Linked DNA regions of Homo sapiens. The protein of the gene in region 1 interacts with the protein of each later gene in a pairwise test. Each region holds a gene or a part of one and is shown on either strand. Other genes may lie near its edges. The genes, in order: ROR2, PPM1F, PTPN12, STYX, PTPN20, MTMR9 and PRR20E.

Evidence for each region.
Region 2: the proteins of ROR2 (region 1) and PPM1F interact in a two-hybrid assay, tested with the Homo sapiens proteins (one study listed by BioGRID and IntAct).
Region 3: the proteins of ROR2 (region 1) and PTPN12 interact in a two-hybrid assay, tested with the Homo sapiens proteins (one study listed by BioGRID and IntAct).
Region 4: the proteins of ROR2 (region 1) and STYX interact in a two-hybrid assay, tested with the Homo sapiens proteins (one study listed by BioGRID and IntAct).
Region 5: the proteins of ROR2 (region 1) and PTPN20 interact in a two-hybrid assay, tested with the Homo sapiens proteins (one study listed by BioGRID).
Region 6: the proteins of ROR2 (region 1) and MTMR9 interact in a two-hybrid assay, tested with the Homo sapiens proteins (one study listed by BioGRID and IntAct).
Region 7: the proteins of ROR2 (region 1) and PRR20E interact in a two-hybrid assay, tested with the Homo sapiens proteins (one large-scale study listed by BioGRID).

Annotation. Positions count from the first base shown.
Region 1 is NC_000009.12:91,940,229-91,943,728, forward strand, and holds part of ROR2 (tyrosine-protein kinase transmembrane receptor ROR2 isoform 1 precursor), read right to left. Parts: intron 1-3,500. UniProt on the Homo sapiens protein: Tyrosine-protein kinase receptor which may be involved in the early formation of the chondrocytes. It seems to be required for cartilage and growth plate development. Phosphorylates YWHAB, leading to induction of osteogenesis and bone formation.
Region 2 is NC_000022.11:21,942,849-21,946,348, forward strand, and holds part of PPM1F (protein phosphatase 1F), read right to left. Parts: intron 3,261-3,500; 5' UTR 3,201-3,260; coding exon 2,995-3,200; intron 587-2,994; exon of another isoform or gene 1-586. UniProt on the Homo sapiens protein: Dephosphorylates and concomitantly deactivates CaM-kinase II activated upon autophosphorylation, and CaM-kinases IV and I activated upon phosphorylation by CaM-kinase kinase. Promotes apoptosis.
Region 3 is NC_000007.14:77,624,295-77,627,794, reverse strand, and holds part of PTPN12 (tyrosine-protein phosphatase non-receptor type 12), read right to left. Parts: intron 1,091-3,500; coding exon 120-1,090; intron 1-119. UniProt on the Homo sapiens protein: Dephosphorylates a range of proteins, and thereby regulates cellular signaling cascades. Dephosphorylates cellular tyrosine kinases, such as ERBB2 and PTK2B/PYK2, and thereby regulates signaling via ERBB2 and PTK2B/PYK2.
Region 4 is NC_000014.9:52,754,166-52,757,665, reverse strand, and holds part of STYX (serine/threonine/tyrosine-interacting protein), read right to left. Parts: intron 1,116-3,500; coding exon 1,055-1,115; intron 348-1,054; coding exon 311-347; intron 1-310. UniProt on the Homo sapiens protein: Catalytically inactive phosphatase. Acts as a nuclear anchor for MAPK1/MAPK3 (ERK1/ERK2). Modulates cell-fate decisions and cell migration by spatiotemporal regulation of MAPK1/MAPK3 (ERK1/ERK2).
Region 5 is NC_000010.11:46,984,428-46,987,927, forward strand, and holds part of PTPN20 (tyrosine-protein phosphatase non-receptor type 20), read left to right. Parts: coding exon 1-137; intron 138-2,912; coding exon 2,913-3,128; intron 3,129-3,500. UniProt on the Homo sapiens protein: Tyrosine-protein phosphatase targeted to sites of actin polymerization in response of varied extracellular stimuli. Has tyrosine phosphatase activity towards various tyrosyl phosphorylated substrates.
Region 6 is NC_000008.11:11,315,816-11,319,315, reverse strand, and holds part of MTMR9 (myotubularin-related protein 9), read right to left. Parts: intron 3,458-3,500; exon of another isoform or gene 2,644-3,457; coding exon 2,423-2,643; exon of another isoform or gene 1-2,422. UniProt on the Homo sapiens protein: Acts as an adapter for myotubularin-related phosphatases. Increases lipid phosphatase MTMR6 catalytic activity, specifically towards phosphatidylinositol 3,5-bisphosphate and MTMR6 binding affinity for phosphorylated phosphatidylinositols.
Region 7 is NC_000013.11:57,165,855-57,169,996, reverse strand, and holds the start of PRR20E (proline-rich protein 20E), read right to left. Parts: upstream 2,801-4,142; 5' UTR 2,587-2,800; intron 2,433-2,586; 5' UTR 2,414-2,432; coding exon 2,362-2,413; intron 1,341-2,361; coding exon 727-1,340; 3' UTR 1-726.

The DNA.
Region 1 (3,500 bases):
GAGATGGTGTGAAAAAAACAGTTCTTACCATTCATGCTGAAGTATTTTCAGGTAAACAATTAAGGCTGTCTGGGGACTGTTAAGTAGGCCGGGGGAAATGAAACGAAATGAACGTGGCAACTGTTGAAGCTGAGTGAAAAATATACAGCGGTTCACTGCAGTCGTCTAATTTTATGTGTGTTGGAATTTCTATAATAAAAATCTTAAGAAAGAAAAATCAGAAAACTTGGGGCAATCCAGAAACTAGACAAAGACAGAGATTTTCAGTCCCTTCAATGAAATGCTGTCTGGCCTCAAAAGCACCTGGATCGCATCCATCCTCAGTCCCTGTGACACCATTTCCAATAAAATCATAACGTGCAATTCTTTTTTTTTTTTTTTCTTGAGACAGAGTCTTGCTCTGTCACCCAGGCTAGAGTGCAGTGGCTCGATCTCCGCTCACTGTGACCTCTGCCTCCTGGGTCCAAGTGATCCTCCTGTCTCTGTCTCGGCCTCCCGAGTAGTTGGGATTACAGGCACCCAGCCCCCACCCCCGGCTAATTTTTGTATTTTTAGTAGAGATGGGGTTTCACCATTTTGGACAGGCTGGTCTTGAACCCCTGACCTCAGGTGATTCACCTTCCTCAGCCTCCCAAAGTGCTGGGATTACAGGCGTGAGCCACCACCTCGCCGGGCCTTGAGTCTTTCTTTTAACAGCATGTGCTAAACTCCATTGTTCATTGCACTGGCTTCAGCCATCCATTGTTAGAATTTAACATTTTTAATTCTTTTTTTTTTTTTTTTTTTTGAGATGGAGTCTCGCTCTTTCACCCAGGCCAGACTGCCATGGCGCTATCTCGGCTCACTGCAAGCTCCGCCTCCTGGGTTCACACCATTCTCCTGCCTCAGCCTCCCAAGTAGCTGGGACTACAGGCGCCCACCACCGTGCCCAGCTAATTTTTTGTATTTTTAGTAGAGACGGGGTTTCACCGTGTTAGCCAAGATGGTCTCGATCTGCTGACCTCGTGATCCCCCCGCCTCAGCCTCCAGAAGTGCTGGGATTACAGGCGTGAGCCACCGTGCCCGGCCTTAATTCTTTACTTTGAAACCATTTCGCCTTTACAGAGAAGTTACAAGAATGGTGCATGAAACTTCCCTCTACTCTTTGCCCAGGTTCACTAATGTGTCACTCTTGCCCCATGGGCTTTATCATGGTCTGAGATGACAATAGTAGGCTGGAGACATCAAGCCCCTTTATCCTTTAACATGGCAGCGTGTATGTCCTATGAGTACAGACATCCTCTTACACCACCTCTGCACAATTAACAAACTCAGGAAAGACAAGTCTGACAACACGTTTAAATAACTTACGCTCACCTTCCAATTTCCTCAGTGGTTCCGTTAGTATCCACGACAGCATGTTTTTCCCTCCAGCACAGGGTCAGGGCCAGCACATGCACTGGACTGCCTTGTCCCTGTGGTGTATTGTATTGTACTGTCTTCTCTACCTACCCTGTGGTGTACTGTATTGTACTGTCTCCCCACCCCGCCCAGCCCCGCCCTGCCCTCCTTTCTCTTCTCTTCTCTTCTCTTTCATTTTTGAGACAGGGTGTTGCTCTGCTGCCCAGACTGGAGTGTAGTGGCACGATCTCGGCTCACTGCAGCCTCCACCTCCCGGGTTCAAGTGATTCTCCTGCTTCAGCCTCCCTAGTAGCTGGAATTACAGGCACATGTCACCACGCCCGGCTAACTTTTGTATTTTTAGTGAGGACGAGGTTTCACCATGTTGGCCAGGCTGGTCTTGAATTCCTGACCTTGTGATCCGCTGGCCTCAGCCTCCCAAAGTGCTAGGATTACAGGCGTGAGCCACCACACCAGGCCCCTGTGGTCTTCTTCAAGCTGGACCTGGCCTGCCCTGTTTCATCGCTCATGTCCTCGACAATTTTTGCTACAGACCATTGTTTCATAGAATGTCCCTCCATTTCGTTTGCTGATTTTTGCTCATAATCAGACTCTCTTCCCCAGATAGAAAGCAACCTAAATGATGTATGCTCTTGGGAAGGACGGCATCCATCTGCCCAAATCTGTGGCATTAACCTGGACCACCCAGGTATTGGGATGCAAATCTCGCCAGTCTACAGTTAGCAACTGTCCCTTGCCAACAAGGAATCTGTGGGGAAATCCTTTGAGACCACAGACATTTCCTGCTCCTCATCAAACATGTCTTCTTTAATGAGTTTAGCACTCATTCATGACGCCTGCCCAAATCAATCCGTACAGTTATTGCTGTAAAATGTGATTATTCCCAACTCGCCTCCCATTTATCAGTTGGCACTTTGCTCTAGGAAGTGCCCTCTCTTCCCCACCCCTCCCACTTAGGTTTTGTAGTAAATTAGTGTTTCCCTATCCACCCAGAAGCTCAGAAAGTGACCTTATTTGGAAATAGTCTTTCCAGTAGTAATAAGGAACATGAGATTAAATCATCCTGTATTTACAGTGGTCCCTAAATCCAATCACTGGTGTCCTTACAATAAAAGGTCATGTGAAAATGGCGATAGAAGTCAAAGTGATATAGCTCCAAACCAAGGGCACCATGAGCCACCAGGAACTAAAAGAGGCAAAAAAGTTTTCTCCCCTAGAGCCCTGGGAGGGATCGTGGCCCTGCCGCCACCTTGATTTTGGACTTCTAGCCTCTAAAACTGTGGGAGAATACATTTCTGGTTTTTAGGTCACCCCGTTTATGGCATTTTGCTACAGCAGGCCTAAGAAACTCATACATATAGTTATGTACTTATTATCAATGGTGAGTCCTGGATGCCTATTTTGTTCCTTGTATAATCCATGCTTGTCTTTATTTATTCTGATGCCTAAATGGTCCCAGACTTGGCTGCAACTCCTTCAAGTTGGCCCCTGAGTACATCTGCCATGCCCCCACCACTTTTCACCACTCACTTGCGTTCTAACACAAGAACACGTTTCAGGCTTATTGTGTATTTTTCCCTGTCCCCATCCCATATTCAGTCATTTCTCCAAGGTTCTCTAGCTCCTTTAAGATGCAACAGTATTGAGAAACCAACATCTGGGCACTAAGAAAGCTCACTGCTAATGAGGTGCTAAGAAATAACTGTTATGTGTAGAGTATGTTTTACAAATTACGGTGCATAATTTAACATAATATATACCAAATATATATATAAATGAAAGCATGAGTTACACTGATACCTCCAATTCCAATTCAACCCCTCCAGATTCTTCCTTGCCTTCCCCTATTCCATCCTTATATCTCCCTCCTTCCTCAGTGAGCACCCTGGCTACAACACTATTAACACACTTCTTATCTGTCTAATCTCACAATTCACACAAAGTCATTTCAGAATGGATATACCCACACCACTATGAAAATCAAACCTACTAAGAAGGGTGCCAGTTTTGCTTTCAGGTTGTTGTTTCTCCTGTAGGCTGAGGATACACCGTCAAAGCACTGAGTCCAACATTACGGTTTCTTTTCCCCCATCTGTGTA
Region 2 (3,500 bases), on another chromosome or scaffold:
TACACAAGGCAAGAAGATGCTCCAGGGACAAGCCAAGGTGTATGCAAGGCCCAGGTGCCTGAGAAACACGTCTCACCGACCTTGGGGCAGGGGCTGTTACAAGAGGCTTATAGTCTAGTGGCAGAGACAAAAACCACACTCAAATCATTAGTGTACGGTATGCACTGCTCAGGGACTCAAATATGTGACAGGAGGCTCCAAACAAGAGCGGAGACAAGGCGTAAATAGCCCCCTGTGGACTGGATGTTCTGACTCCTGGATGGCCTCCAGAAGGATGCCTTTTACGGTCTGTGAAAGAGCTCAGGGACCAAGATGCTCAAAGCCCTTCATGCCCAAGAGCCCCTCCTCAGGCTGGGACACGGGAAGCAGAGCTCGGAGGTGGAACTCGTGACTGTGTATGGGCACATGTGAGTGCGTGTGTGTGGACAGCCAGGCTTAGTGTAGACAACGTGTGAGGCTCAGACCCCAAGTGCTGACTACACCTATGCACATCCACACCTGCGTGTGAAAGAAGATGCTAGAAAAGAACAAAAATAACTTAAAAAATAAATCCAATAAGATGGCTGGAACATATAACAACTTCAAATACTCCATTTTAGTTCACCATGTAAGGTGGGTTCCTGGGGGCTGAGGAGACTCGGGAGCTCTGCACCCCTCCTGCTCGCACCCATCACTAGGTGGCTCACACAGCAGCCGCTCAACAAGTCTGGCTGCTCTCGCATCAAAACCAAAACCCACTGCCCTCCCCTGCGCCCCCAGCACTGACCCCAACACTTTGGTTCGGGGCCCTCCTGGGCAGGTCACCTGCACTGCCTACTCACTCCTCAGCCCTCCAGGCCCTCCCACCTTGGATCCTTCCCTGGGACCCTGCTCTGCGCCCTTCTCCCCCTGCCCAGGAACTGAAGGCTGATGTTGTCACCCCGGTGCTGCGGCCTGTCCGTCTTCAGCACCTGTGCCCCACGCAGGCCCAGCAAACCCCTGGGCTCTGTTGTTCCCCGGGATGGCTTTTCCATCTGATCCCCAGCTTGGGGCTGGCACCGCTTGGCTTTGCCCGGTCACCTCATGCTTGGGCCAAAGTGCACCAACCCTTCTGTCCCGGGCCTGGCTTTTTGCCTCAAGGCAGCAATGGCCCCATGCCACCTCCACGAAGACCCAGTGGCTGCAGAACTCCCTGGTCTGGACTCCCCTGCTCCCTGCAGAGTGCCACCTGCTCCTCTCAAGAAGGCAGAACGTGAGGCCTTTCCTCACCTCCCGTGCATTGGCACCCCTGCTGGGCCCACTCTGCTCCACCACTGGGGGCTGATTCACTTTGTGCCACATATCTAAAATATTTCCTCAAAACAAGCCAATAACACCCTTTGCGCATGCCATGACCTCATGGAGCGTGGTCACCGGACATTTCCTCCTGAGCTCTAGGCAGCTGTGGGGGATGCTGGGTGGCATAGCCCTTGCATGTGGCTGACACTTAGCAATGTTTGTGCCCATGTTGCACAGGGAGAGCACAAGTCACTGACTCTGCTAGGGCCTGGGGTCAAGGAAAATAGGCCCTTGGTGGGTGTCAGGAACAGAGTTGATTCGCTGCAAGGGGCAAAGGAAGTGCACACTTGGGGGATACTGAGGCAGCCACCGAGGATGGTGGCTCTGTCAGAGGGAGCTATGGCTGAGGGCCTGTCATGGCTTCAGGTGATATTTCAGGTGATTTGGGTGATGCTGGGACTGGGGACCATGCGCACATCCCCTCAGCAAGGGACTAGGTTCACAGAAACAGCACGCGGCCCACCAGCCTGCTCACCTCCATGAGCTGTCCCCTGTGCCAGACAGACAGCCTAACTCCAAGACCCTGTCTGAGCAGAGAGGGTTCGAGAAAAGACCTTGTCCTTCACCATCTTTCATGGGACAAATGCTTCCAGAATGAATGAATAAATGAAGGGGAGGGCAAGGGTCTTCCAAGGAAAGGACCTCTGAGTTCAGCCTAGGCGACAGCTACACACTGTCTGCCGGTGGACACCCAACTCTCTATCTTCCCCGAAATCTGCTCGGCTAGTTGTGCTACCTCTCTGTGCCTCAGCTTCCTCACCTGTGGAAGGGGGACAGTGCCAGCTATCTCTCAGATCGTGGTGGCTGGGGTGCCATGTGGCTCTGCCACTCCTTGACTGTAAGGCCTCAGGCCAGCCTCTTCATCTACCCACCTCTGCCTCCTCGTCCATCACACGGATCGGAAACAGGACGTACTGCTTATCAGCTGCTATGCAATAAATTGTGTTCCCTAAAAGGTATGTTGAAGCCCCAGCCCCCTGTGGCTCAGAATATGATCTTATTTGGAGTTAAAGTCTTTGCAAATGTAATTAGTTATGTTCACATGAGGTCACATTGGCTGGAGTGGCTCATGCCTGTAATCCCAGCATTTAGGGAGGCAAAAACATGAGGATCCATGGAGCCCAGAAATTCGAGACCAGCCTGGGCAGCATAGCGAGACCCCATTCTCCACAAAAAGAAAGATGAGATCACACTGTAGGAGGGCAGCCCCTGGTCCAAAATGCCCATGTCCTTACAAGAGGAGGAGTCACAGACACACAGCAGGCAGGGTGGGGAGGTGTGAAGGCACAGACACACACATGGGGAGATGCCGTGTGCAACAAGGCCAGCTAGGAGGAATGAGTCTACAAGCCAAGGACCTCCAGGAAGTCAAGGCCAGGCACTAACAGAAAGGCAGACTCTTCCCTGCAGCCTTTGAGAGAGCATGGCGCAGCTGCCACCTTGATCTTGGACTCTGGCCTCCAGCCCTGTGAAAGAATGAGCTTTGGCTGTGTTGAGTGCCCAGTGTGTGGTGCTTTGCCATAGCAGCCACGGGAGTTCCACATGGTGCTGCATAGGGATCCGGGGCTGCAGATCCCCGTGTGGGGCTGGACGTGTAGGGGAGCAGCAGCCACATCCCTTGTCGGCCCTGGTGCCGTGCCCTTACTCCCCGTCCCCTTTGGGGGTGCACAGGCCTACCTGCTGCCCAGAAAGCCCATGGCCAGCTCAGCCAGCTCGCCCTCCACCTCCTCCTGGCTGAGCACCGTCCCTGGGGCCTTCCATGGCAGAGGGTCCTCTGGGTTCAGCAGGGCTGGGAAGTCTTGCAGGAGCGTGTCCAGGAAGCCTGGGGTCTCCTCAGCTCCACTGGCCATTGGGCTGCTCTTCTGTGGGGCTCCAGAGGACATGCCCAAAGCATCCCGGGGGCCTGCAGCTAGGCCAGGGCAAGAGGGTCTCCAGGCTTCACCCTGGGGAGAAATGTCAGAGTCAGCAGAATCAGGGGGCCATGGCACCAGCAATGCAGGTGCCCACCTGCAAGCACCATGTGGCAGGTGCATGGCCTCATGGTTCAGGGCCACTAGAGGGTGGAGGGACAACCCTGGCCACTGTTTTGACATGAGTCCAGGTGGGGACTTGTGGGCATCCAGAGATCCGGTCTCAGGAGATGGTGCCAGGAGCAGCAGCTGGGTGGACATTGTCAAGAAGTG
Region 3 (3,500 bases), on another chromosome or scaffold:
TGCTGTAGGTTCTATGGTAGAGTGTGGAATAAAACATAATAAATCAATACAGCTAAAGTGCTTAAAACAGTGACTAGCACATAGGAAAGACATTTAAGTATTTGACACTATATTATTACCTTTTTCAGCACCTGAATGTGTTGTTCCTGCTATATTATGTCTAGCAATGGACATTGGCAATACTTTCCTAGTAGAAATGCTTTCAGTACTAGTGGCAGCAGAAACTGTGGCACTTGCTGTTGAAATATTAGTTTTATTCTGGGTCACAGCACCATCAGAGTTTCTTTCATCTGAGTCTGAGTCATCAGAGTGAAGTGGATTAGTAAAACTGAGGGGTGTTCTGAAGAGTGGTGAAGTGTTATCATGATCCACAAGATCAGGTGTTTCAACTTGTGTTGTAGGACTTGGTGTTAAACTCACAGTTTTCCTAGTTTGATAGTTGATATCTGAGGAATTGCCTTCAGATAAATCAGGTATGGGTATGGCATTTTCAGGTCCATGAAATGACCACGTTACATGTCCTTTCTCATCAAGAGGCAAGCGGTCTGGCCTTGGAGGTGTGTCTGAATTCTGGGATTCTTCTGGTGGAGTAACTGAAACTTTGTTTGATTGTGTTACACTGCAGTCCACACAAGAATTCTGGGAAGTATCACCGACATTTAGATCTGAACTTAATTCCTGTGGCTTAGAGATTTTATCAGCTATACAAGGTGAAGCAGATTTAATTTTAATTGCATGTCCCCTATTCAAAAGTGTGTTCCCATCAAAACTTTTTGGTCCCTCTTGGAGAGGGACCTTCTTAATCTCAAAACTTAAATTTCGTTCCAATTTTTTATCTATCTGTTCAATTGTTGATTCATTTTTCCCTGGAAGTTCTGTTGATTTACTATAGTTTCTGTTGAGGTCTGCTGAATGTTGTTCTGATGAAACCATATGCAACACTGGCTTTGGATGGTATCTATCATTGTCCTGCCACACAGTAGTGACTGTTGGAAAAGCTGAAGGGGGAGAAGGTGTCAAGATGGGTGGCACTGGATGAGGTTCCGGTGGCTGCAGTATTTCTTCTTTAGCATCCCCTTCAACAAGGCAACTGAAAAACAAACATTTAAAAAGGGCATTTTAAGACTGTTAAACAAGTTGATACCTGAGAATTATGTAGCTAAGAGTAGCATATTAAGAGCCATTACAATCTGGTTGCGAATAAAAACTGCAGTTTTTCAGACTAAGAAAATTTAATGTTCATCAAGGTAATACACATATACTGTTTAAAAAGTCAAATACAAGACTTTGAATGAAAAACATAGTCTCTGCCCCGCAGCCCTCCTGTTAGCCAGAGGCATCAACTTTCAACATTTTTTTATAGCTGCTTCTAAAATTTACACCTCTGTATTTCAGACTATTTCAAAAGTTATTTCTTGATCTTTGTTTCACACATTTTCTACTGACTTCCTACTGTGGAAGTGTCCTTCTCTATCTTTCCAATACTGTTATATTGTAATTTTTCATTACCTCAGTCGTATGACTGCAGATAGTATTCCCATCTATGACACCATGATTTCGTATCTTTTCTTCTATAGTGTCTTGTTTTCCCCTAATGACTGCCTTGGATTTCTGATGGCTTAGCTCTCTATGCATCATCAGTTACTCAGCTTTTCTTCTAACTTTCTTGCAGATTGGTATACCTCCTCTCAATAATGACAAGCACACATAGTAAGTATCAATACCACAGACATCCTTGTTAGTAACTTTTGGCCTCCTGCTCCAGTGTGGACTACTGGTTCCCTAGTCCATCACAGAGCTAATGTTCTCTCTGGTTTCAGATTCTCCTGTTTCCCAGGTCTCATTTTCCTCTTTCTGGGTATACTCCTTTGTTCGGGTGGGTTATACCCTCTAGTTGCCTTTATTTTTTTCCTTAAAGAAATAGGGGCCAGGCATGGTGGCTCACGCCTGTAATCCCAGCACTTTGGGAGGCCAAGGTGGGTGGATCAATTGAGCTCAGGAGTTTGAGACCAGCCTGAGCAACACAGTAAAACCCCATCTCTACTAATAATACAAAAATTTGCCAGGTGTGGTGGCACACACCTGCAGTCCCAGATACTTGGGAGGCTGAGGCAGGAGAATTGCTTGAGCCCAGGAGGTGGAGATGGCAGTGAGTTGAGATCACGCCACTGCACTCCAGTCTGGGCGACAGAGCAAGACTGTCTCCAAAAAAAAAAAAAAAAAAAAAAAGAGAGAGAGAGCGAGAGAGAGAGCGCGAGTGAGAGTGAGAGTGAGAGAGAGAGAGAGAGAGAGAGAGAGAGAGAGAGAGAGAGAGAGAGAGAGCGAGCAGCCTGGGCAATATGGCAAAACCCTGTGTCTTTAACAAATACAAAAAAATTAACTGGATGTGGCAATGCATGCTTGTAGTCCCAGCTACTAGGAAGGCTGAGGTAGGAGGATCACCTGAGCCTGGGGAGGTCAAGGCTGCAGGGAGCTCTGATCATGCCACTGCACTCCAGCCTGGGTGAAAGAATGAGATCCTGTCTCAAAAAAAAAAAAAAACCAAAGAAGAAGATAGGGTTTACTATGTTGCCCAGGCTTTGTTGCTTTTTAAGAACTTTATATGAAGCAAACTTCTTGAGGGCTTGTATATTTAAGTTTTTGTGTTCTGTTTTTCTTTTGAGATAGAGTCTTGTTCTGTCACCCAGGCTGGAGTGCAGTGGCACCATCTTGGCTCATTGGAACCTCTACCTCCTGGGTTCCAGCAATTCTTGTGCTTCAACCTCCTGAGTAGCTGGGACTACAGGCACATGCCACCACACCTGGCTAATTTTTGTATTTTTAGTAGAGATGGGGTTTTGCCATGTTGGCCAGGCTGGTCTCCAACTCCTGGCCTCAAGTGATTTGCCTGCCTCGGCCCCCGCAAAGTGCTGGGATTACAGGGGTGAGCCACTGGACCCCACCTCAGAGTTTTTGCTTTTTTTTCTCCCCCCAGGTGATCAACCTTTTTTTATCCAACCAGATAACTGGCAGTAATCACATGGTACACCAGGTTTCCCCTTAAAAGAGACTCTGTGGGCCAGGCATGGTGGCTCACGCCTGTAATCCTAGCACTTTGGGAGGCCAAGGCAGGCGGATCACAAGATCAGGAGTTTGAGACCAGCCTAACCAACATGGCAAAACCCCGTCTCTACTAAAAACACAAAACCCTAGTCAGGCATGGTAGCGTGCGCCTGTAATCCCAGCTACTCAGGAAGCTGAGTCAGGAGAATCACTTGAATTCGGGAGGCAGAGGTTGCAGTGAGCTGAGATCACGCCACTGCACTCCAGCCTAGGTGACAGAGCAAGACTCTGTCTCAAAATAAATAAAATAAATAAATAAAGACTCTGTGAAGTTCAGATTCTCTAGACACATTCCCACATTCCTAGGACATGAGAAGATAAATGAATATCTCCAGAATACTGATCATATTAAAATGACAGCAATACTCTCATAAGATATTCCTATATCTGTTCAAGTT
Region 4 (3,500 bases), on another chromosome or scaffold:
TAACTCCTTATATACTATAATCACTTGGATATCTTCAAATCTTTACAATTTGTTATTATCAACTGTGTAGAGAATATAGCAGACTCTTATTAAAGAAACTGAAAGCTCACAGAGAATTTGAAAACAGTCTACAGGGATACTCCAGAAAGCCTATCCAAATGAAACAAGTAATTGGGAAAATACAAATTTGGGAGTAAGCTACTACATATAATTGTAACTTCCATATCCTGCATTTAAGACAAATACCAACTAAAAAATTAACAAATAATCAAAATATAAACATTAGTTAAGGAAAGGAAATGTTATTTACCTCCCATTTGTAAGCTCCCATCAATAAATTCCTTAGTCTGGAGGCAAAAGACATGTGGATTAATGTAAGCATAAAATAAATGCATATAATGAAACAAAATGAAACCTATTGAAAACAATTTCCTAATTTATATGTATAAAAATTATTTTGATTCACCAATTTCCAAAATGCTATAAATAGAACTATTACAAGTCCAAAAAAATTAAAGAAGCCAAAATTTAATTTAAGTCCAATACATTCACAATATGATTCCTCAAATTTCTGGAGATCATAAAAAATTTTCTACAAATAATTCTTTTAAAAACACAATCACATAATTTTCAGTCATAGCAAAGTAAAAGTAGCAAGCTTTACAAGCACAATTAAAGGGGCTGGGCACGGTGGCTCACGCCTGTAATGCCAGCACTTTGGGAGGCTGAGGCAGGCAGATCACCTGAGGTCGAGAATTTGAGACCAGCCTGATCAACATGGAGAAACCCCGTCTCTACTAAAAATACAAAATTAGCTGGGCATGGCGGCTCATGCCTGTAATCCCAGCCACTTGGGAGGCTGAGGCAGAAAAATCACTTGAACCCGGGAAGCAGAGGTTGTGGTGAGCCAAGATTGCGCCATTGCACTCCAGCCTGGGCAACAAGAGTAAAACTCTTGTCTCAAAAAAAAAAAAAAAAAAAAAAAAAAAAGCACAACTAAGAAGTCAAATCATAAATAAATTTTAAATGATATTTAAAAAATACTGGTACCTACCATAGGGAAAAAACGTATTATATTTTCAACTGGATTATCTGCAATATCCAGGACTAAATATCTGAAAATAGAGTATTTTGTGATAAGCACACTTTAAGTAAAACACTTAAGGTACTTTAAAAAAATAACTCATTATTTCTTGTTAACCATGGCAAGAATGCAAAACAACTTTCAAAGTATCATATTCCCAAGAACTGTGTGGTAGATTTTACATTGCTTGAAGGCATTAAAACCTGAAACACCATGTTAACATCTCTGATATTTAAGTATTTAAAAAATCCATCAGGCTGGGCACAATGGCTCATGCCTATAATCCCAGCAAAAAGAAACTCTTTTGGGAGGCCAAGGTGGGAGGATCACTTGAGCCCAGGGATTCGAGACCAGCCTGAGCAACAGAGGGAGACTCCATCTCTACAGAATATTAAAAAATTAGCTGGGTGTCGTGGTGTGCACTTATAGTCCCAGCTACTAAGGGGGCTGAGGTAGAACTGTGTGAGCCTGGAAGTCAAGGATATAGTAAGCTGTGATTGGGCCACTGCACTCCAGCCTGGGTAACAGAGCAAGATTCTTATCTCAAAAATAAATACATATTTTATTTGCATATAATGAACCATCTGGTTAAAATAGAAAAATCACAAGCAGGAAGATACATTCCTCTAGATTAGAGTGGACCTAGAAATAAAGACAAAAGTACCTGTAATCGTTATGTTATTCTTTTATTTCTACCAATTTCTCTAAGACCAGAAGATTGTTCTCTAAGTGGTCCTGTGACTCCTGCTCATGAACCTACAGAGGACATTTCAGAGGAAGTCCAAAGTCTAAGAGAACGAACAAATAAAAACGGAAGGTATGGTCTATGGAACCAGGAGTCAAACATTCACTGTTTGAACTCATCTTTAGTAAAGGGGAAAAAAAAAAAAAAAAAAAACTAGCTGAGAGAGCACCTGTACTGAATTTTACACTTTACAAAATACTTAAAAGGCATTTTAAATATGTTAGCTTATTTTTGTAAAAAACTTCCATTTCTAAGCGTTTCTAAGACCACTGTTTATTAACACAACTATAGGCAATTAGCTAAGTTATTAAATTAGTTTTAAGAACAATTTTGCACTAAAAAATACAGTTTTTCAATGATCATTTAGGTGGTAACAACTTCAAAGAATTCAGGACTTTAATACAGAGAAGCTGAGGCTGAGCATGGTGGCTCATGCTTGTAATCCCAGCACTTGGGGAAGCCGAGGCAGGTGGATTGCCTGAGGTCAGGAGTTCAAGACCATCCTGGCCAACATGGTGAAACCCCATCTCTACTAAAAATATAAAAATTAGCCAGGCATGGTGGTGCACACCTGTAATCCCAGCTACTCAGGAGGCTGAGGCAGGAGAATCACTTAAACCCGGGAGGCAGAGGTTGCAGTGGGCCAAAATTGTGCCACTGCACTCCAGCCTGGGTGAAACAGCAAGACTCTGTTTCAAAAACAAAAAAAAAAAAACAAAAAAACAAACAAAAAAAAACACAGAAGCTGAACCTCAGGATCTGAGGAAAATCCAATATTTAACCTACAAGGATTTCGACAATGACTGTATCCTGAAGTGACTGGGTATTCCAGTTACATAAAATAATGCTTCAGGGGAAAAATGTTAACTCAGAATGAAATTAAATATTTTAACGCATAACATTTTCAGTGTCAAGCACTGCTAGTAGAACTATCAATCTCTAAGAAGCTAGTATTGTAAAAGTTTAAGGAGAAATGGTTCTTCCATTAGGATAAAGAACCTGCACAAACAACATTATAATTTAAAACAAAAAGTCTGTACACATTAGAAATGAATAGTATGATTTTTTGGCTTTTTTGTTTTTTCTTAAGATTAGTTTCACCTTATATAGTTTGATATTTTAAAATACAACATTCTCATTTTCTTTAATAATTCTATGCATATATACGTAAATACACATACACAACAGAGAACGATTTAAAAGGAAATATTCCAAATGTTAACAAAAGTGTTTTCTCTGAATTGTGGAACTGTAGATGATTTAAATATTTTTCTTGGTGTCATTCTATACCTTCCGAAGTACTTATAAAGAATAAGTGTTTCATGGCCAGGTGTGGTGGCTCATGCCTGTAACCCCAGCACTTTGGGAGGCTGAGGTGGGTAGATCGCTTAAGCTCAGGAGTTCAAGAACAGCCTGGGCAACACAGCAAAACCCCATCTCTAGAAAAAAAAAAAAAAAATTAGCCCGATCCGGTGGTGCACCTGTAGTCCCAGCTACTTGGAAGGCTGAGGCAGGAAGATTGCTTGAGCCTGGGAGGTCAAGGCTACAATGAACAGAAATCATGCCAATGCAATCCAGGCTGGGCAGCAGAGAAAGATCCTATCTTTGAAAAAAAAAAAAGTATTTCTTTCATAATTATAAAAAATTCAGGCCGGGCGCAGTGGCTCACGC
Region 5 (3,500 bases), on another chromosome or scaffold:
GAATTATCAAATGCTACCATTACTGGCCCATTTCTCTGAAGAAGCCATTGGAATTGAAACACTTCCGTGTATTCCTGGAGAACTACCAGATACTTCAATATTTCATCATTCGAATGTTTCAAGTTGTGGAGAAGTCCGTAAGTTTTTAAACATCAGTATTAGATATATGTTTCACCACATAAGCAGATGTCTTAGAACTAGAAGTTAGGAGTAGGATGGAAAATCGATCGATGATACTTCTTAAGTAACTTTTTACTTGTCCCTGGTACCAGAAGCCACCACCACTTCTACTTCTCCTCAACCAGATTCTGTGGAGAAGAAAAAATTGGAAAAGAGAGGTGGGGCAGGGAGAGTGACTGTTGAAGTTGTCTGATTCTGGGTTATACCTGCCTCTGCCAAATGTAGCAGATACGTATTGAGTCCTTAAAGTATGCTAATCACTGGGCCAGGCACTATCAGTACTTACCGAATAGTGGAGAGGTTGGTTACACTCACTGATAGATACCTAACTTACCGTGTTCAGTGATAATGTTGAGATATGTCTTGGGCACTTTGGGGCTCAGAAGGTAAACACTTGGCTTTACTTGGGGTTTTGAGACAGGTTTACTGGAGGAGGTGGCATTTGTTTTGAGAATTATGCAAATGAAAAAGATGGAGGGAGAAAGTAGATGATCAAAATATAAAATAGCATAAGGTGTGTGTAGAGACAAATATAAGTAGTTAAGTGTTTCTGAAATGTAAAAGTTCAGTGCCAGGGAGTAATAAAAGATGAGATGAGGTTCTCAAAAGTAAGCAGGGGCCAGCTAGAATGTGAAATGTCTTAAATTTCAGCTAAGTAGCATGAACTTTATTATGAAGATAATTGGGAGACATTGAAGAATTTTAGTAAGTGACATGATCAACTACGGCTGTTGGCATGGGGGTGGAAAGCACAGACGCAAGTGTTTTGCAGATAAAATTGGGAGACATATGTGACTTATGACTTATGATTTATAAGTGACAGAGGAGGGGTTGAAAATATATTCAATACAGTAACCACATGTGGATATTTAAGTTTAAATTTAAGTTATTTAAATTTATGTAAAATAACAAATTGAGTTCCTCACCTGCAAGTAGCCACATTTTAGGGCTTATGAGTGGCATGTTGATAGTGGCTACTATATTGCCACTATTTAAGACATTTGCTTCAGTATAGGAAGTTCTGTTGAGAAGCATTGGTCTAGAATAATTCATGGATTCCTTGGTCTAATAGACTTAGAAAACAGAAAAGGAATGGTTTATAGGAGAAAGCAATGAGTTAGATTGCTCTAGTGGATTCAGTTGGCAGGTAGGTGATACATGTGTTAACACGAGTGAAGGGAATAGGAGTTGAACAGGAAACTTGCAGAGAATGGTGAGTTTTGGAGTCATCACCAAAGAAGTTGATTGGAGCACAATCACCAGGAAAAGGGTTGCTGAGTGATGCTGAGGTTTGACCCATACATTTGTAGTAGCAACAAAATATGTGATTATGTGTATTTTTCTAGCAGTATAACATTGAGATCCCTGAATACAGGTTATGGGACTGATCCAGAGAGAGAGATTAATTTTAAGGAGTTGGTTCAAGTGATTGTGGAGGGTTGGCAAATCTGCAGGGTGGGAAAGTAGGCTGAAGACCCAGGGAAGAATTGGAGTTTGAGTCCAAAAGCAATCTGCTGGTAGAATTCCTTCTTGCTCATGGGAGGTCAGTTTTTGTTCTCTTAAGGCCTTCAGCTGATTAGATGAAGCCAACCCACTTTATGGAGAATAACCTGCTTTACTCAAATTCTACCAATTTAAATGTTAATCTCACCTAAAAAATACCTTCACAGAGGCACAAAATAATATTTGGCCTAGTATCTGGATACCAGGGCTCAGCCAAGTTGACACATAAAATTAACTATCACAAATTTCAGTCGACACTGTGGATTAGAATAGAGCTCTGAGCACTAGCATCTTTATTCAGAAAGCTTAGGAAAAAGAGGTGCATTCGGGAGAAGCATAGGAGAAGTGAGAAACTCATTTTGAGTTCTTCCATTAGGGTCCCATGTGTGATAAAATAAGGGCCCCACACTGAGGAAAGGGTCATGATCCCTTTGGATGAGATATAGGTAAATTCAAAGTGCTTTATCTGACAATGCTGGGAAGAGTTTCATGACTCCACTTCAAGGGGGCTCAGCACAATAGTGGGACCCACAATCTACTCTCATGGTCATTGACTACCCTGTCTTCATCGCTGGAAGAGATCGGTGCCTCTCTTGTCAGACACCTATATGTCTTAATTAAATTTCATATGTCATTTCTAAACTAAGATACTTTGCCTTTTGGTCTTATTCCTAACATGACAGTCCATCTCTCACTCTAAGCATTTTGAAATCTTGGTTTTCCTGTAGCCTCATGGTACAGAAGAATGATGGTAGATTAGAATTCAAGACACCTACATTACAGTTCCAGCTCTAAACGTGTGAACCTTCTGACCTAGCATACATCTCTCGTCCCCCTCATCCTTAAATTTTCATCTGTAAAATGGAGATAAAATGGTGCCTATCTCACATGGTTGATGTGAAGATTAAAGGAGAGAATTCATGTGAAGCCCCTAGCATAGTAACTGCCACATAGCAAGTGCTTAATTTTTGTTACCTGTTAATACTGGTATTTTTATTGTTGTTACTGTGCTCTCCTTTGTAAAATGGAGAAAACCTCTATTCCTAGCAACTTCCAGAATTCTTATAAACATCAAAAAGAGGTTTGAGTACTTTTTGAAAGTTCTATATAATACCAAGGTAATACCATATAGCCATTATTATTATCATTTGAATATTAGAAGTTGGCGTGAGGTCTCTAATATAAGAAATCAATAAATGTCTTTCTCGCTCTGTTTCTTTCTCTAACAGACGGGAACTAGTCACTCTGTAAAACAGTTGCAGTTCACCAAGTGGCCAGACCATGGCACTCCTGCCTCAGCAGATAGCTTCATAAAATATATTCGTTATGCAAGGAAGAGCCACCTTACAGGACCCATGGTTGTTCACTGCAGTGCCGGCATAGGCCGGACAGGGGTGTTCCTATGTGTGGATGTCGTGTTCTGTGCCATCGTAAAGAACTGTTCAGTAAGTGTGTGAATCAAGCAGATACACTGATGCTGTTGGTGTTTACACACTACATTTAATAGCCTGATCATTTGGAAGACTAATATTTGGTCTTCAAAAGCAACTTAGTAAATCAAAAGCACATGAGCTTTGGATACCTGATTCTCACCGAACTTGCTGCAGGTTCCTGGGGGTGTTTGTGAGGATTAAAGTATGTATTGTAAATAATGGCTTAGGACAGTGTCTGGAACATAATAGATACACAGAAAATGTGAGTTCCATTTCCTTTTCCTTCCCTGTATCTTACACGGGGTGTTTAGACTCTTACTAGAGAATGTTGATGGAATGTGCCTGTTTTTAATGAATATAAGTGACAAGCACATAAGAATGTGA
Region 6 (3,500 bases), on another chromosome or scaffold:
ACCTTTTTGTTTCTGAGAAGCCTATAATATAAACATAAAAATTATACACTTTTTGACATTTATGTCCTATTTATTTTTCTAGTTTCTTTAAGAAAGGGCTTGTTGTGCAGAAACAACCAGGATAGCTTACAAATATGAATGTCTGGAAAGACCCCCAGGGTCTTCATTATTTACATTGTTTGATAACCACTTTCTAATTGTTTTTTTTTTTAATTTTTTATTTTAATTTTTCCATAAGTTATTGGGGAACAGGTGGTATTTGGTTACATGAGTAAGTTCTGTAGTGGCGATTTGTGAGATTCTGGTGCACCCATCATCCGAGCAGTATACAATGAACCCTAATTGTAGTCTTTTATCCCTCGTCCCCCTTCTGTCCCTCCCCCAAGTCCCCAAAGTCCACTGTATCCTTCTTACGCCCATACTAATATTAAAAGTGGAGGTTGAGTCAAATCTCAAACAAAACTTAAAATTTTTTAGAGACTTAGCTTTTAGGGAAAATAACTTACATGTACATAAAATACAGATTGTCAAAGATGAAAAATCAATGTGAATCTTGACATAAATACATATTTAATCTATATCCACATACAATGAACAGGCTTCATAATAATTCTAAAACTCTGGAACACTCTTTATCATGTGAATAAACTGTTAGAGAAGGATAACAGTCGATCGGCATGTTTTAGAAAAAAATACATTTTAACACAGATTGAAAGACAGTCTGTGGTAAACCTTACATCAACCAAAAAGATAATACATTCAATTCTCATAAGACTCAGTTTAAGCTGAGATTTTATTATAAAATCAGTTTTGTCTCTGAAACCACATGATTATTTATGAGCTACGTGCAACTTACTGCATTCTTTTTGAGCTAGCAATAAAAATAATCCACATAATCATAGAGCCTATGTGGCATTGGACTTTAACTGCTGGGATAGCATGTCCCACGCTATGTTCCCAGGAACCAGGGATGACAAGGACAGGACATTATTGCATCCACTGCCTCCAGCCCTGTGCCCCCTGCCCATGGCCGGCCAACCACTGAACTTGCTCTGGCTGAGCCTGACACCACTTCAGAATCCTTCCCATCAGCATTGCTGGCAGCCTCTACCAACTGGGAAACAGAATGGGAATCTATTTTGATCCCTTCTTGAAAGCTAGTCCTGAGGATATTAACAGGTATAACACCAAAAAAAATTCATCATCAAACACATTTCTTAAATGCTGAATTAAACTTATATACATTGCTTTACTGAAGAGTGTCTTAAAGCCTTTAATGATTATGCGTTAATCATTAAATCCTCCCTTCTAAGTGGGGGAGTTAATCCTCCCCTCTAAGTGGGGAGGATATTATGTCATATTCACCAAACTTCCTTGGCTATAGAAATTGCCAATCCCTCCTGTCCCTCCCTGCCAGAGTACAGTCCAGGGCTAAGCAACACATGCTTCAGAAAATGGTGGCTGCCAGCAATGAGGCAAGGAAGGCTGCTGATTGTACCCTGAAGAGATTACCAGGCAACCTCCCTGAAAGATCATTCTGATGTGAATCTTGTAAATGAACCTATACACTTGATGGTGCCTGGGCTGTAAGGTGAGCTTGCCACTCTGGGCCTGAGGACAGTTTCTAGGTGTAACAAAGTCTGGAGCAGGAGGAGGAAGACCTGTAATTTAGGCCAGGGATCCCCAAACCCCAGGCCATGGACCAGTAAGGGTCCGTGGCCTGTTAGGAACTGGCCACACAGCAGGAGGTGAGTGGCAGATGAGCGCGTATTTCCACCTCCTGTCAGATCAGCATCAGATTCTCAGAGAAGCGCAAACCCTACTGTGAGCTGCGCATGTGGGGAATCTAGGGTGCGCCTTTATGAGAATTCTCCTTATGAGAATCTAATGCCTGATGATCTGACATGGAACAGTTTCACCCCAAAACCATCACCAATCCCGCTGCCACCCAATCCAAAGAAAAGTTGTTATCCACAAAACTGGTCCCTGGTGCCAAAATGGTTGGGGATCGCTGCTCTAGGCCACACTTTTGATGACCAACTGACTCTATGTCCTGGGAAAAGTCACGTAACTTCTCTGGATCTTACTTTCTTAATAAAATTAGAGGGAAGACCTGAATTATAAATTAAGGCTTTTTCCACATGTAAGATACTATGATCCTATGTTAAGAAATTAACATTTAAAATGGTTGCCCCTTAATTCACGTATGGACTAATTTTAACCTAACAGAACAAAGTCTAGGACATGCTCTCATAAAAGAATATACTTCAGGTCATTTAAATTATAATTAACTGTAGCCTCTACCTTTTTATAAATAATTTTAATATAGATCCAAATCGTCGTCTCCTAGGAGATTCTGGCTACTTAGGAAGTAGCCAAAACAACGGAAAAGGAAAGGTCCCCATGTGAGCAGTGTACTCACCTTTCACTTTCATTGTTGCCCAGAAATGTTCCAAACTGTGAGGCATAAGCATGCTCAAAGAGCATGATGAGGAAATTCTCATTAAACTCAAAAGAACAGGGAAACTGACGAAGGATCTGCCACACGCAGTCCAAGAAGAGAAGAAATACAGGAGCCTCCCACTTCTGCTTGGTGTTACAGTAGGCTGACTGTGCACAGCGCTGCTGGAATGGGTGACCAGCCTAGGGGGAAGATGGAGGCGTGACAGTCATATCCTGGTGAGATCACATGACAGAGCATTCTACCGACACCACTATACACAATTACAGTGACACTCCTAGTACCTGGAACATCATATAATTAGGGTAGCTGTTGTACAGATTAATGATTTCTTGGTATAAAATAAATAGCGGCAGCAACTAAGGAAAAAGACACACTTCCAAATCCTTAATGAGGCTGCGCGGCTAAGGTGTGACCACAGGAACTGCACTGCCCTTGGAATATCCCATGGAAGAATAATGAACTTAAGCAATAATAAACTTACAAAATAAACCTTTCTAGGTCTACAAAACCTGGAGCAAAGTCAAAGAACATAAGCTCTCAGTACAAAGAAGAATCATCACCTCTGTCTAACACTGTAGATTGTGCTGTACACTAAACAAGCCTCACCCTAAGTGGAGACAGATATGGAACTCTGATCACCTTTATAATGTCAGCTCTGATAGTAAATCTCTAATTATATACGAAAAGTTATTGTGTTGAAAGATCTTTATGAGTACTTTTCTACAGGAGATAAAGCTGTCATTAATTACCCTCTTCTCCCAAAATGAACAGCAAGAGTCTGCCATCTACTGACCAAAGTAAATTTAAGACTCATTTGACTGTCTTGTTCAGAACCCAAATGCTGACCTTAATACAAATCATACTCTGCTAGGAATTTCACAGATCTGCTTTGTCTCTGGGTCCTTCTACTACTGTATGTGACAAAGGTAATGACATAGAAATTTTACAGTGGTTCACAGAATTGTGATATCCATTAAAATAACATAAAAATCAGTCAGTCATACTCATTTGTTTGTCTACTATGCATCATGAGGAA
Region 7 (4,142 bases), on another chromosome or scaffold:
GGAAGCCAAGGACACTGCCGTCAAATTACTGATTCCTGGTTTAGCGGTTCCAGTGAGTCATGCACTCTCCTTGCTTCCGTTAACCGCCCCCCCCCCCACCCCAACACCTTTTGTCTGATTCGTCACATGTCCTTTGATCCCCTTTTTCCTCAATCTGTTTGAAATTTTACCTTCTATTCCAATTCATTTAGTGGTTCCCAAAGGGTACCCACGTTGAGACTTAAAAATGTGTCAGTCTAGATTTTTATTGCTCTTATATTCAGCCAGTCTATCGTCTCCAGGCACTAGAGAAGCACTTTAGTAACTTCTAGCTCCTTCTGAGTTTTCGCATGTCCCACATGTCTATATGAGTGTCTTCTGGAATTTTAATTCTAGGTCATCAATCCTTTTTCCAGAATCGTACTTCTCTGGACTTAAGAATACAGTTTCCTAATTTCCATGCTTAGTGATCCTTGTTGCATCCCACTTCTTCCAGGTTGTCTGGGTTGGCTTCTTCTTGGCTGAAAAACGTGACGTGTACTTTCACTGTACATGACAGTTCCATTCCAATCGCCTTGTACAGAAAGGGTGTTTGGCAGCTTGCATGTTGTAAGTTGCGTACTCCAAGTTCAGGGGAAGCTCAGGCTTCAGGTCCAGTCGGGGGAGGAGTGGAGCAGAAGTGGGGCTGGGGGGAACGTCCAGGTGGAAGGAAGGGAGGCTGGGAACAACGTGGGTGGCAGATAGTGGTCAATACGCAATGTCGGTGAGGAACACTGGGACCCCTTGCACGTAGGTGCCCTGGGGGGTTTGAATGACTTGTAAAACCGCTGAGTCACCCAGAGCCCTAAACCCGATGCAGGGATAGAGGGTCAAGACGGGTTGCCAGTCAACAGCCTGAGGCCCAGGAGCAGCGGGCGGCTCCTGAAACCCCAGCTCAGGTTGCGCCACGTCGGGGCCAGGGCCTTCCTGCACAGTTCCAGGCGGAGGACCTGTTTCAGAAAGGGAGAAGGCTGCGGTCTCCGTGATTTCCGGTTCCCCCTGGTGGCCTGGCTCTCCATGGTGGTCCAGTTGGATGTGCACGTCCGGTGCCATCAAGCCTTCTGCCCCCTGTCTCTGGCCAGCGTCCCCGCGGGGCCCAGCCCTTCTGCCACGGCCTCGCCCTGGCCGCCGGCTTCCTCCCCGGCGCCGGCCTCTCTCTGCAGGAGGGGGTGACTCTGGGCGAGCTGGGGGCTGCCGTCTGAAGGGTTTCACGTAAGCGATGGGTTTTGCGGGTTGGGCTGGCTGTGCGGGCCCATCTGCTTCCACGGAGCCTTCAGGGTCCGCAACACAGCAGCCTGGCTCTGGAGGAGGCCCACCTGAGGCTAAAAGAGAAGCGGAGCGTGAGCAGAGAGAGACAGAAGGAACTTCACCCGTCAAGCAGTTATAGGATACTTTTACAAATAAATACTCAGAGAAAAGAGGGATTTCTGAAGTTAAAATTGTGAGAGAAGAAACAAAACTCTCCACGGAAGTTGGAGAAAGAAGTTGAGAAGGTCTCCCACAGAACAAAGCAAAAACCTAAAATGATGGAAAGAAGGATGAAATATAAGAGAATTAGAGGTATGCTGTGGCTGAGACATTTCACCAGAAAATTTCAGAGTGCTGAGGAAAAAGAGAAGATTCTAACAGATTCTAGAGAGCGGGAGACAGAGAAAGGAAAAGTCACATGGAAAGGGCTAGGATTCCACATGTCTCAAAAGTCAGACATCTCAAAAGCAGCAGTTCAGTCTAGAACATAACAGAAAATGTCTTCGAAATTTCAAGGGAAATGAATTTCCCACCTAAAATTTCCTGTCCAACCGAAGTTTCGCTGAAGAATCTGGGAGGGGAGAATGAAGATGTTTCAGACAAGCAAGATGTTAAAGAATTTCCTTTCAGTGGATGCTTTATTGTTATGCATCTGTCAAACTAGACAAGATTAAAAGATTTAGGACACTCAGCGTATGAAGGGAAAAGTTTTGGAGAACAACGTGGCAACAGCCGGAAAATTCCAACTCCTCCGGGAAAGAACAAGGTGGAAGTACCGGTTTATCATAGATCAAGACGTAGCGTGAGGACTCGCTCTGCTACGGAGAAACAGTAATACAAAACTAAACAGAAGGAAACAGCGACAACAACAGCAAATCTCAGATTTGGGAAATGGGATTACGGTTCGGAAGAGGGAAAGGAATTTCCCAGATGATGTGGAACCCGGGAGCTGACTTCCAACAAGCAGCCCAGGTTGAGGCAGGCTAGGAGAAGGTGAAACAGAGAATGCTTGATTGAGTTTGAGTGTCAACCATTGGGGAAGAATTGGGGAACAGACGAAATTAAAAAGAGAGGAGTGGCAGGCGTTTGATGTACCTTGATTAGGGGCCATGGAGCGAAGTCGCTTCGAAGGCCTTGGTTCCTCCATGAGCAATCGGCGGGAGGGGCTGGGGAGAAAAACAAGAGAGCAAGAACGGATTTAGGAAGACAGAGGTGACAAGGCAGGGGGATGGCCGTGGCCTTTCTAGGGGAATGAGGATTCTGTCCCCAACTGCACCCACCCGAGATCCGTCCACGCCTCCGGGACCCCCAGACACACACCTGATCTTCCCACAGCTGGCTCCGGAGATCTGAAAATTAGGAGACTCTTCGACGAAGAGAGGCCCGAGGAGTCGGAGGTGTCCACAGGTTCACCGCTGTAGCTCTGAGGTAGTCCACCCGCAGCCAGGGAGTCTGGAGGGAGCACGCAGCAGGTTCTGGCTCCGAGCCCAGCAGAAAGCCGACTGCTGGAGGCCGAGCGCCGTCCCTCTTATATGGCAGCAAGGCAGTCGCGTAAGGGACAGGCGTCGTCAGAGGGGGGCCGGCTGGGGCGGGCCTGGCTGGGCTTGCGAGGCGCATTGGGCCAGTCCCCTGCCAGTCAAATGGGGGCCCTTCTGAGATGCCGCCATTTCTAGACGTCCGTGGTTGATTGATTAATCTAATCATCGAGGAAAAAAAATTGCATAATGACCTCTGAGTGTCAGCACAATGAGGTGTGGTGCCCTGAAAGCGGCTGACAGGAAGATGCGATTAGCTTAGATCTGAGCATGGTCAAGGAAAGCATCCAAAGCGGGGATATCTGGGCTGAAATCTGGAACATAACGTTTGAAATTAGTCATCCTGAACCGGGTTGGGAGAGGCAGGGAGGGAGGAAGGGGAGTGAAGAGAGTGTGCTGAGGCCCGGACTGGAAGGGAGCCCGGCACATTCTGGGAATGGACGGGAGGCCAAGTCCAGGCCCGGAGGTGGTGCGAGGTGGAGGCAGGGTCCGCGCAGGAGCTGGTCTTGTTCCAAGGCAGCGGAAAACCGTGGAACGGTGTCCGGCAGCGGGTTAACATTTCAGAAACGACCAGCCTGGCTGTGAAGGAGCGCCAACCCAGGGTCCGCAGAATAAGTCAGGAGAGGCAAGAAGGCTATTGCAGCCCTCGGGGTTGGGCGCAGGGTGCTGTTAGACTGAGACTCAGGGAGGTAGAGGAGGAGAAAGTTCCCTGGTGGGAGAGAAATTTCCAAGAGAAAGCGAGACCCAGTGTGGACAGCCCTTGAGGAAGAGACTGCGGCCTTGGTAGCCCGCCGGTTCATTCAGGCAGAGGTGGACCGAGAACCTGCTCTGAACGGGAAGTTGCGGAGCTTGGCTTGCGCACATCTGGTTGAAGGGGCTTTTGAACTGCCAAGTGAGGATGTCAAGTGGCCTTTTGTAAAAAGAGTCGAGCTCAGCGCGATGGCGACGGGGCTGGAGATGCGTGTGAGACCCACACCGCTGGCTTTTATTGCTGTGGGTGCACTCACGGGTGGAGGAAGACAGCGGGAAACACAGCAGGACGCTGGAGGGGATCCCACAGTGGGTTATTTGGTTGGTTTGCATCCTTGTGTCTTTTACAGAGACGGGTTCTCGCTCTGTAGCCCAGGCTGGAGTGCAGCGGTGCCATCTCGGCTCGCTGCGGCTACTTGGGGGGGGGGGGGGGGGGGGGCTGAGATAGGAGAATCAGTTCAAGTGATTCTCCTGTCTCGGCCTCCGGAGTAGCTGGACTACAGGTGAGCGCCACCACATCGGGATAATTTTCGGATTTTTTTGGAGAGACGAGGTTTCGCTATGTGCCCAGGCTTGTTTGGAAGGCCTGAG